Linked DNA regions of Homo sapiens. The protein of the gene in region 1 interacts with the protein of each later gene in a biochemical or structural test. Each region holds a gene or a part of one and is shown in the gene's direction. Other genes may lie near its edges. The genes, in order: SRPK2, MARCHF10 and NCL.

What was found.
Region 2: of the proteins of SRPK2 (region 1) and MARCHF10, one has a biochemical effect on the other in vitro, tested with the Homo sapiens proteins (one large-scale study listed by BioGRID and IntAct).
Region 3: of the proteins of SRPK2 (region 1) and NCL, one has a biochemical effect on the other in vitro, tested with the Homo sapiens proteins (one large-scale study listed by BioGRID).

What each region holds. Positions count from the first base shown.
Region 1 is NC_000007.14:105,130,403-105,134,051, reverse strand, and holds part of SRPK2 (SRSF protein kinase 2), read left to right. Parts: exon of another isoform or gene 1-947; coding exon 948-1,048; exon of another isoform or gene 1,049-1,153; coding exon 1,154-1,261; exon of another isoform or gene 1,262-2,285; intron 2,286-3,649. UniProt on the Homo sapiens protein: Serine/arginine-rich protein-specific kinase which specifically phosphorylates its substrates at serine residues located in regions rich in arginine/serine dipeptides, known as RS domains and is involved in the phosphorylation of SR splicing factors and the regulation of splicing.
Region 2 is NC_000017.11:62,806,210-62,809,958, reverse strand, and holds the start of MARCHF10 (probable E3 ubiquitin-protein ligase MARCHF10), read left to right. Parts: upstream 1-1,644; 5' UTR 1,645-1,882; intron 1,883-3,318; exon of another isoform or gene 3,319-3,529; intron 3,530-3,749. UniProt on the Homo sapiens protein: E3 ubiquitin-protein ligase. E3 ubiquitin ligases accept ubiquitin from an E2 ubiquitin-conjugating enzyme in the form of a thioester and then directly transfer the ubiquitin to targeted substrates.
Region 3 is NC_000002.12:231,457,965-231,461,613, reverse strand, and holds part of NCL (nucleolin), read left to right. Parts: coding exon 1-74; intron 75-747; coding exon 748-945; intron 946-1,049; coding exon 1,050-1,136; intron 1,137-1,171; exon of another isoform or gene 1,172-1,246; intron 1,247-1,320; coding exon 1,321-1,462; intron 1,463-2,488; coding exon 2,489-2,613; intron 2,614-3,224; coding exon 3,225-3,348; intron 3,349-3,649. UniProt on the Homo sapiens protein: Nucleolin is the major nucleolar protein of growing eukaryotic cells. It is found associated with intranucleolar chromatin and pre-ribosomal particles. It induces chromatin decondensation by binding to histone H1.

The sequences.
Region 1 (3,649 bases):
AATCTGATCTTGTAGGTCAGTCTGAGGTTTGGTGATGAAGATGCTGACTTTAAGGACTATTTTTCTGGGCCTCACCAGATTATTTTTGTTTGTCACTTGCCCCTTGGTTAACTCTGCTTGATACAGGCATGATCTGAACTTGTTTGAGAAGATCTGGCCCCAGAATCTCTGGGAAGCTGGCCCTATACCTGCCTTTGAGATTCCCTGGAGTCATCCTGGAATTTAGAATGACTGCTCATGTACATGACAAGTTCATGACTGACCTCAGAGGTTGCCTTTATGGCCCAGGCCATCTCAGGAGACCTCTGTCTGGGACCTTCCTTGTCTAAAACAAAACCAGAATAGTTTAGTCCCTGCCTTTAATCTGTGTTTGTTAATCAACAGTCATCTACCCCTTGAGATCTGTGTGTGCTCAGCCCAAGCAGTGGGAACTGTAGGGGATGATGTGGGTGTGAGGTGTCGGTGCCAGGGACCCTGATGTCTTGTGGCGTCCAAGGAACTGTGTGTCACTGAGAGTGATCGGCCCCCACAGCAGTGTTCTTTCTACCTTCATGTTCCTTGTAATAATGCATCAGCAAGCTCGATCTGGGCCGTGAAGGGATGGATTGACACCATGAAGAGCCGCCACAAAGCTGCAGACAGGGGGACAGCAAGGCTGGCTTGTTCTAGGGCTGACCTGGACCCGAAGAAACTGGGGATAAAAAGAGAAAGGTCAAGGCAGTGCCCTTGGCGTCCTGTGGGCAGCCCAGTTTGCTCTTTTCTGGAGTATTTTCCAGAGGTGGAGAACAAGCAATTTTAGTTCTGTCAAGTTTAATTTACAGTATTCCAGGCCTAAGTGATCATTCCACTACTCTTGAGGAAAGGAGACTGACCCTGGCAAACACTGTGCTCACACATGCAAACCACCTATCCCGATCACTAACTGTCCTGCTGTTTGCTCATGCCAGCAAAAACCCGGGCAGCTGACTTGTTGGTGAATCCCCTGGATCCGCGGAATGCAGATAAAATTAGAGTAAAAATTGCTGACCTGGGAAATGCTTGTTGGGTGGTAAGTAGAGTTTTCTTTCTAAAACCTTTGGTCTTGATTCTGTGTGCGAAGACACTTTTTGAATGTCTGTGTTGCTCCGTGGTAATGCAGCCTGTTCCCTTCCAGCATAAACACTTCACGGAAGACATCCAGACGCGTCAGTACCGCTCCATAGAGGTTTTAATAGGAGCGGGGTACAGCACCCCTGCGGACATCTGGAGCACGGCGTGTATGGTAAGGACGGCTGTGCCCTTTGCTGCCATGGGAATTGGCTCGTTCCTTTCACACTCTGGATGGGGCTGAGTCTCTCTGAGGCATGCGACCTCAGTTTTTCTGACTGTAAGGGTCATCCACCGTGGGCTGGGTGAGGGGAAGGTTGCTGCCGCAGGCATCTTAAGAAGTGGAAGGATCCTCCTCAGGCGGGCCCTGGGTGTTTGGTGTGGTTGTGGGCTTGTGAGAGAGACATGGTCTCTTCTTAAGGCCCTGCACAGCCCACAGCCCCATGAATCAGACTCAGTTGTTGTGACACAGTGACTTCACTTGTGGTCCCTGAAAATGTGCAGGGTATAGGGAGCTTTTCCCTTCACTCACACTGTGGAGGAAGATGAGGTAGCATCTCCAGGGGAAGACTGCCTAAGGCGGGCAGGTGGGAGCCCCTCCAGGTAAGCCTCTGCCTGGTCAACCAGACATGCAGGGTTCCTCACCTTTCCAGACTGGAAGGGATTTCCCCAGATGCCAATGCATAATCTCTCTTCCCTTATAAAGCAAGAGCTAGCAGATATTCTGGCTTATTCTAGGATGTCTAGCCTCTTCTGAAACAGTGGCAGCAACGCCCACTCCCTCTGACAGAGTCTGTTCCCAGAGTGGTTGAGATGACGGCTTCCACAGGGCGGCAGAAGCCTCTTCTTCTATCTGTCAGGCCTGTTTTGCTGCTGGTTTTGTGCTGCACAGTTGCATTGTCTGTAAACTCCCCTGGCCCTGCCTGGCATCGTTTGGTCATTGACCCTGAACCTGTGAGTTGGTGAACACAAAGGGCCCTGCATTTGCGAGCCAGTTCCTGGTTCTCTTCCTCTGCCCTGTTTCCTGGCCCATTCAGCAGCTTTTTCTCAGTGGTATTTACTTAGGCGTTCCGTGTTGGGAAAGGTGGGTTGCTTGCTGTTGGGTTTCATGCTTTTCCTATTCCATACTGCTTTTTATCCATATTCTTCCAATATTTAAAAGAAAAGATTGTGTGCAAGGCTTAGCATTTTTCTTCTCACTGAAAAAAGGAATGCAGAATAAATATATTAATTTTCTGTTATTCAGAGGTTAATTTAACAATTTTCTTGAATTTACTGTGTTTTACCTCCTCTAATGCTCAAGTAAAAGCATTGTTGAGCAGATAGTGCCAGCTGATAGGAGAAAAAGAGGGTGCTTTCTGTCTTTCAGCTTTGACTCAGCATGATCTGAGTCAGCACATGGCCAGATAGGTCCTGAAACACCAGGCCTTTCTATTCCCTCGTTGCTCTTAAGGATAATACCAGACAATAACGTTTAAATTATTAAAGGTATTAAAGTTCTTCCATATCAAAAACCAAGTCCCTGCCTTAGCTAGGTATAGAAAAGAACGGTTAAAAGAACCGGTGGCCAATGATGGTCACTTTGAATTTAGAGAGTGCTGTGTGGAGAGGCATTTGACCCTCTCTGTGTGACCCCAGCAGGCAGACTGAGACGTGGGAGTTAGTGTAACGGGAGCTGCGGAGACACTGAGTGGGAGTCGGGGAGCAGGGGCCATTTCAGGATGTGGGGAGGTTAGACCACAATGGCCACTAGCAGCAGGGCTGCCCCGAATTAGGCGCTAAGTACTCTTTGAACTCTGAAATGCTGTGCTTCTAATTTGGGGTATTAAGTTTGGTGATATAACCAGAAAAATAGGACGCAGTCACGGATGTAGTGGGTTAATGGAGCTTTCAGCACAATTTTATACCAGGTTATCTGACCTGCCTTCCATTAGATGAACGTTTGTCCCTCCATACAATTTCCCTGTCCTGCTTACTTCTTGAAATGCTATTGCTGTGAACAGTGGCATAAATATCAATAACAGATTCCCAAGGAAAAGCCTTTCTGTCTTCTCACCTGCCCCCTTCCCAAGAATTAAGCATAAGCTCCCTCAGTGCTGTCAGGACGGCTTATGAGGTTTGCTTTTTCAGTTGGTTGTCATAAGGGAGGTTTTTTTTTTTTTGGAAAGGGGCAGGCCCTCATTCACTGCTTGCCCCACCCCCCAAAAGTCATGGCTTTAGAGGTTTCTTTTGTTCCTCCTAGAGAACCTAGGAGCAATGAGGCAGTTTTTCTTACCTCATCGTTCTGTTGTAGTGTAAAAATAGGACATTTAATATATTAAATTTGACCTCATAATACCAAGCTGTCATAAGGCCACAGATGGTTCTTGGTGGTAAAGCCTATATATAGTCTTTGAGGGTTTTGTTTGTTTGTTTGGAGACAAGGTCTTGCTCTGTTCCCCAAGCTGAAGTGCAGTGGCAGGACTATAGTTCACTGCAGACTCCACTTCCCAAGCTCAAGTGATCCTCCCACCTCAGCCTCTGGTGTAGCTGGGACTACAGGCACATGCCACCACGCCTGGCT
Region 2 (3,749 bases), on another chromosome or scaffold:
CTGCCCAGCTCATGATATGTCTTTGAAGCTGGTGTGAAGGCAAGGAAAAATGTTCAGTGTGTAACACATAGTCCCATCTGGCTGAAGTATGAGTGAAGAAGTGATGAAGGGGAAAAACCAAGAAAGGAAACTGTGGGGGAGGGCACAGGGAAAGTCATAGTGACGAGTTTGGACTTCATTCCACAGGCGGTGAGGAACCTTTCAGGGCTTTTTAAGCAGGGGGCCAGCAACATTAGATGTAGGCTGCTTATAGGATGGGGGAAATGGTGAAGATAGGGTGTGGAGGACAGGCGCCCAGGGTGTGACCAGGAGGCCCTCAGAATAATCCATGGAGCCCAAAACTAGGTCATGGAGCCCAAAACTAGAGTGATAAGAATAGAAAGAAGAATGTGACGCTGCCAAGGACTTGGCACCAACTGAATGGGGGGAAGGGGAGGTGTTGAGAAGACGGTCAAACCACAGACACCTAGGGATTCCGGGCACTGATGAAAGTTCCAAGAATTTCTATTCTTCCTTTACCTTACTCTCCACTCAATCAAAAATACCCTAACTTGACATCAGTTGACAAGTTGAGAGCCTAAATATGCAAAGTAAATAGGGGAGTCATCTTTGCCCATGAGAACCACAGACAGACATCAACCCGGCAAAGCCGGGCAAGGTGGCTCATGCCTGTAATCCCAGCACTTTCGGAGGCCCAGGCGGGCGGATCACTTGAGGTCAGGAGTTCGAGACCAGCCTGGCCAACATGGAGAAACCCCGTCTCTACTTAAAAAAAAAAAAAAAATACAAAAACTAGCCGGGTGTGGTGGCGCATGCCTGTAATCCCAGCTACTCGGACGGCTGAAGCATGAAAATCGCTTGAGCCCCGGAGGCAGAGGTTGCAGTGAGCCAAGATCGTGCCACTGCACTGTCCAGCCTGAGCTACAGAGCAAGACTCTGTCTAAAAAAAAAAAAAAGAAAGAAAGAAAAAAAAGAAAAGAAAAGAAAAGAAAAAGAAAGAAATCAACCTGGCACAGAGAAGGTGAGGGTAGTAGCGGTTCTGGTGCCCTGGCTCCAAAGCTGTAGGGCCTGGTCTAGGCCTCTAAGCACCTCTCTCCTTGGAAAGGGGGTGAAGACGACTGATTACGAAGAGGCCTGGGCTCTAATGTCGGTTCTGCCACTGACTGGGTGCCTGGCTTCATCGCTTATTTCTTCTTTTTCGTGTTGGACCAGAGCATTCCAGATGTCCTCTGCAGAGGTCGAACTCCAGGACTGCAGTATCTTTTCCTCTTCGCATGTACCGCTTTTCACATTCCCTGATTCCATTAAAAATATTTTCCTCTCTCGTTTTCTAATCTCATTTTTTATGAAGCACAGCACCCTTTCAGGGAAGGGAGCAGAGGCCTGGATATCTGGGTCTGGGCTTGGGCACCCAGACAAAGCCAACCGCCTCCTCCTTGGGCATCTCTTCTCTGCCCACCAGCGTGGCTCTGACTCCCCGACTGCAGCCCGCCTCGTTCCCACGGCAACCGGCGGGCGCCCACGACTGGCTTGGGACCCCGGGGCCACAGCCCCGCCCCGCCCCGCCCCGTGCTCTCGGCGGCTGCACCTGGTCGCGCGGGGGCGGGGAGGCGCGGTTGCTAGGGAAACCGGAGGACGCCCGGTAGCCGCCCCCACCGCCTCCGCCCCAGGCAAGGCCGGCCGGCGCCGCGGAAAGCAGCCTCGGGGAAGGAGGAGGAAGAGGGGCAGGTGTAGGGAGTGAAGAAGCAAAAAGAGGAGGAGGAAGAGGAGCTCAGGGCCGTCCCCGCGCAATTAATGGGCGGCTCCTGCGCCCTGGACCGGCCCGCCCGCCCAGCCCCTCGACCCCTGTAGCCCCGGCAGGGGAGGAAGGGCAGACCCACAGGTAACGGCCCCCTCGCCCCCGCCGCTCCGCTCCAGTTCTCCCAGGATGGGGGACAACCTTCCCTTTCGACTTACAAGATTCTGGAGGGAAACCGGGCCTGACATCCGGTGGCCTGGCCGTCCCCTCCCCTCGGCTGACCCCAGCCCCAGCATTTTTCTGTCTCAGAGGGACAGGTTTGGGGGAGACCGTGAACCTTTGCTCACTGGCACCCACATTCTTTCCTGCAGACGCCACTGGTCAGAAAAGGTATACACAGACCATGGCCCACTGGGCTTCTGAATGCGAAATGGTCGATATTGATTTTGTTTATTTTTGAGAAGGAGTCTCGCTCTGTCTCCCAGGTTGGAGTGCAGCGGTGCAGTCAGGGCTCACTGCAGCCTCGACCTCCCAGGCTCAAGCGATCCTCCCGCCTCAGCCTCCCGGTGGTAGCTGGGACCACAGGCCAACACCATGTCTGGCTAATGTTTTAAATTATTTGTAAAGAAGGGGTCTCGTTATGTTTCTCTGGCTGGATATTGTTATTAATGATGGCACTGAATTGCTTGTCAAACCTGTGACGTTTCCTCCCCCAGAGTTTCCCAATTACACGTTGAGTTTCTCCTCTCTTCTGGGCTTGATGGTCGAAATGTGACCACCTATCTCTCCTAGTTTCACAGTAAAATGAAGAGTCACCGCCAAACACAAGTCTGTTCCCCACCCTCCACCCCGCCCCCAACTCTTAAGCCAAATTGGCTGGAAGAGTTGAAAGATCTCCTTACCTTTCCCAACCAATTCCCCCTTTTTCTCTGCAGTCACAGTATTCTTAAATTGGGCCCAAATCGTAAACTTTGTTGCTTATACTCAAGACATGTTTATAAGCTAAGACTTTAAAATGCAAAGTTTTTTTTAGAGCTAAGATTTAAACAAATCCTATAATGTCTGACATTACAAATTAATCAATTGGGGAAAAGGTTGAATAAGGTCTCCTGAAATCCTTCTCCAATCACCTAATTGTGGAAAGGGAGTAATTTTCGAGCCTGATTGTCCGGTATTAACAATAGCCATTTAGATTTTATTTCAAAGCAACCTTCCGTCTAAGGAGGAGGTTAGATTGTTTACATTTCCTTTATTGCTTAACAGCATATTAACTTTAGTGATGTCTTTCTCTTATGAGAACATAGTAAGAAACCAATAAGACTTTGATTGTTATTAAGAACAGGCTCCTTCAAATCAGTTCTTTTGACAAATGTGGTCATAAAACAGAGGGATGGTACGTATGCATGACTTTTAGAGCACTGAAAAACATTCTGCAATCAGATTCTGTTCCCCTCAGTCAGGAAAACTTGGTTGGAATTCACTGGAAAATTACACTAGAGAAGAACGTGTATGTCACAAAGTTCTTAGAATATTCCCCCATTAAAATTTCACAGATATGTAGAATTTTGAGGCCAAGAAGAATTACTCGCTCTTGCTTTCAGCAAGGCAGGACCCCCTCCTTCCTTCTCCACCTGCCTCCAACTCCCTCCTCCTTTCTCTCTCCCTACTTAATATGGCTTCTTATGTTGATTTCTAAAGCACAGATTTGGCACAAGACATTATCACCAGAAAGACTTAAAACAGAAGTGTGCATAACCATGAGTGGGTTTTAAATTAAGAAGCAGTTCAAAGGTGAGCGATAGAAGAGAATACAGAGTGCTATTTTAGAAACATGCGCCTTGCTCACATTTTATTATCACCCCCACCCCAACCCTCTGTGTTTGCTGGGGAAAAATTCTTGGCTTCAAGTGGCCATCTGGTTGAGTAGGCCCACAAAGCTGAGATCCATGAATTAAGCATTATCTCATGTAGTTTTATTTCCATACTGTTATTTCTGTTTCTTGTTCATCCT
Region 3 (3,649 bases), on another chromosome or scaffold:
TGCCCCTGCCTCAGAGGATGAGGACGATGAGGATGACGAAGATGATGAGGATGACGATGACGATGAGGAAGATGGTAAGGAGTTGTCTTGGTAGTTACTGGGCTTCTGATTACAAGGTATCTTGAGATTCTGGGATCAACATATTCCTTCCACGACAACCTGGAGATGAGATTAGAATCCTTGTGGGAATTCTCTGGGTTGTTGTGGTGTGCTAGACTTAATTACCCATGAATGATTTTTGTGCCTCTTGAGAAAATTTCAATAGCACATTCTATTAGTGTTTTTTATAATGTAGGATTTTGTTTCTAAGTGATTTTTTTTTTTTTTAAATTTTTTTGAGATGGAGCTTTTGCTGTTTCCCAGGCTGGAGTGCAATGGCGCGCTATCTCGGCTCACTGCAGCCTCCATCTCCTGGGTTCAAGCAGTTCTGCCTCAGCCTCCCGAGTAGCTGGGATTACAGGTGCCCACCACCACACCCTACTAATTTTTGTATTTTTAGTAGAGACGACATTTCACCATGTTGGCCAGGCTGGTCTCGAACTTTTGACCTCAGGTGATCCACCCACCTTGGTCTCCCAAAGTGCTAGGATTACAGGCGTGAGCCACTGCGCCCGGCCCCAAGTGATCTATTCTTGCCATGACTGTTAACTAAACATGGTGACAGGATTGCATTTTCTTTACATTAGATTTGAAAACCGATGTTGGTTTTGGGAGATTGCTGCAATTTTTAGGTGACTTCTCTTTCAGACTCTGAAGAAGAAGCTATGGAGACTACACCAGCCAAAGGAAAGAAAGCTGCAAAAGTTGTTCCTGTGAAAGCCAAGAACGTGGCTGAGGATGAAGATGAAGAAGAGGATGATGAGGACGAGGATGACGACGACGACGAAGATGATGAAGATGATGATGATGAAGATGATGAGGAGGAGGAAGAAGAGGAGGAGGAAGGTACTTAAATTAGATTCTGACATACGACATGAGTTATGTTTAAAGGAGGCACTTAAGTGTTTGTGGCTACTGATGTGTGATACATTGTTTGACATCTTGTCCAGAGCCTGTCAAAGAAGCACCTGGAAAACGAAAGAAGGAAATGGCCAAACAGAAAGCAGCTCCTGAAGCCAAGAAACAGAAAGTGGAAGGTAACTTGCAGAATTAGGGGATATGGGGGAGATAAACAGCACAAATGATGAATAACAAAGGGACTTAATACTGAAACCTGATGTTACATTGTAGTGTGCTGATGTGCTGTGTATAGAAATTTTGCTTTGGAAACTAACTTTTTACCACACTACAAGTAGACTGAGTTGAGCTTTTTTTGTGCAGGCACAGAACCGACTACGGCTTTCAATCTCTTTGTTGGAAACCTAAACTTTAACAAATCTGCTCCTGAATTAAAAACTGGTATCAGCGATGTTTTTGCTAAAAATGATCTTGCTGTTGTGGATGTCAGAATTGGTATGACTAGGTAAGTGCTTCACTGCACGTTACATACACGTGGGTCTGTTAATGCTTTTCCTTCCCCTGTTAGCACAGTTACTTTAGCCTGCTACTGTTAAACATGAATACTGTAAACATCTTCAAGGATTAGCATTAGTGAACTAAGTTAGAATTAAACTGTAGATCCCCTAAGTTGCAATTTCCATAATCAGTCGTAACTTGGTATAGCACAGAATAATTTTTAGTAAGTTTTTTTGTTGTTTTTGTTATGTATTGAGACGGACGCTGGCTTTTGCTCAGGCTGGAGTACAGTGGCGCAATCTTGGCTCACTGCAACCTCTGCCTCCCGGGTTCAAGCGATTCTCCTGCCTAAGCCTCCCAAGTAGCTGGGATTACGGGTGCACTTCACCATGCCTGGCTAATTTTTGTATTTTTAGTTGAGATGGCATTTCACCATGTTGGTCAGGCTGGTTTTGAACTCCTGACCTCAAGTGATCCACCCACCTCGGCCTCTCGAAGTGCTGGGATTACAGGCGTGAGCCACCCTGCCAGTAAGTTTTAATAATTTGGTGTTAGGTGGGAGAATCGCTTGAACCTGGGAGGCAGAGGTTGCAGTGAGCCAAGTTCGCGCCACTGTACTCCAGCCTGGGCAACAGATTGAGACACCGTCTCAATTTAAAATAATGTTTATTTTCTTGGAAGTACCTGAAACTATTAGACCTGTCTAGTCATCATAGTGAATACTTTTATCCAGACAGGATTCTCCTGTATTAGTGCTTATAGGTGTTCTTTTGTCAGCTGCTACTGTGAATTCTTATAAGCAATTTAGCTCCATGATGAAGACCTCAAACGTGAATGTGCATGTCATATCTTCATGCTGAGACCTTGTTCTGTAGCTGCAGTTTGCAGAGCCTTGACTTTGTTTTGCTAATACTAGGGGTGCTTTTTAAAATGTGATCTTTGTTTGCACCATCACATTTGTCTAGAATACATATTGTGGATTTTGATTTGTGTTTTCACCTGTTGTAATTTTGCCCTCCTCTCCACCTTGAAGGAAATTTGGTTATGTGGATTTTGAATCTGCTGAAGACCTGGAGAAAGCGTTGGAACTCACTGGTTTGAAAGTCTTTGGCAATGAAATTAAACTAGAGAAACCAAAAGGAAAAGACAGTAAGAAAGGTATGTAAGGCTTTATGAGATTATGCAATGAACTCAGGAGCTAGACTGCTAGGGAAAATGCTTTGTAACCCATTTCCCTTGGTTTCCTCTTATTTTTTTAAATCATTTTTTTCCTTTGGTTTCCTCTTAATGTGGGAATTAAATGAGCTACAGTGTTTACAAGAGTACTTGGCACTGCTTGTCAGTGTTATAGTGTAAATTCCTGAGTTAGGCAAGCAAGAGCACTTTTATACAGAACAAGAATTATTAGATGCACCTAAATTAACGTAAAGGGATCTTTCTTCACTGAAACTAGATTAGGTCCCTAATTACTCCCTATATACAGTTGTAATGTTTTGAATTGGTACATTCACTTTTTTTGTTATGCGCGTCTACTCTAGGTTGAACTCCAGTGTACCTAACAGAGAGTTTGACATCAGCTGTGACAACATGGAGGGACCACTTGTGTGTTGACACTGCTATATCTCCATATTTAGCACCGAGCCTTGTACATTATAGGATCTCAAATTATTTGTTGAATAGAGCTATGTGTGTTTTTCCCCTCTTTTTGTTGTTGCCCCCCACCTTTGGTTTTTCAGGCCACAGAGCTCATTTTTGTTTTTTTAATCTAGAGCGAGATGCGAGAACACTTTTGGCTAAAAATCTCCCTTACAAAGTCACTCAGGATGAATTGAAAGAAGTGTTTGAAGATGCTGCGGAGATCAGATTAGTCAGCAAGGATGGGAAAAGTAAAGGGTATGTTCTGTCTATTGAAATGTAAGGGTTTTATTAACATTAATGCACTTTCCTGCTTTATAAAAGAAATATTGGTTTGATTTCCTTAGGCGTGTAATCTTGGACAGTTTAACCTGTAAGTTTGTGCCTCAGTAACCCATCTGTACCATGGGGATAATGTACTCATAGGGTGATTTTAAAAGACAAGCTAATACTTACAAAGAAGCAAGAAATGTGCCTATCTTACAATAAATACTTTGTAAGTAGTAGCAGTTCTTTCAGTGAGGTGAGGTTACTATGAAAAAATTCCAAGTATTTGTAA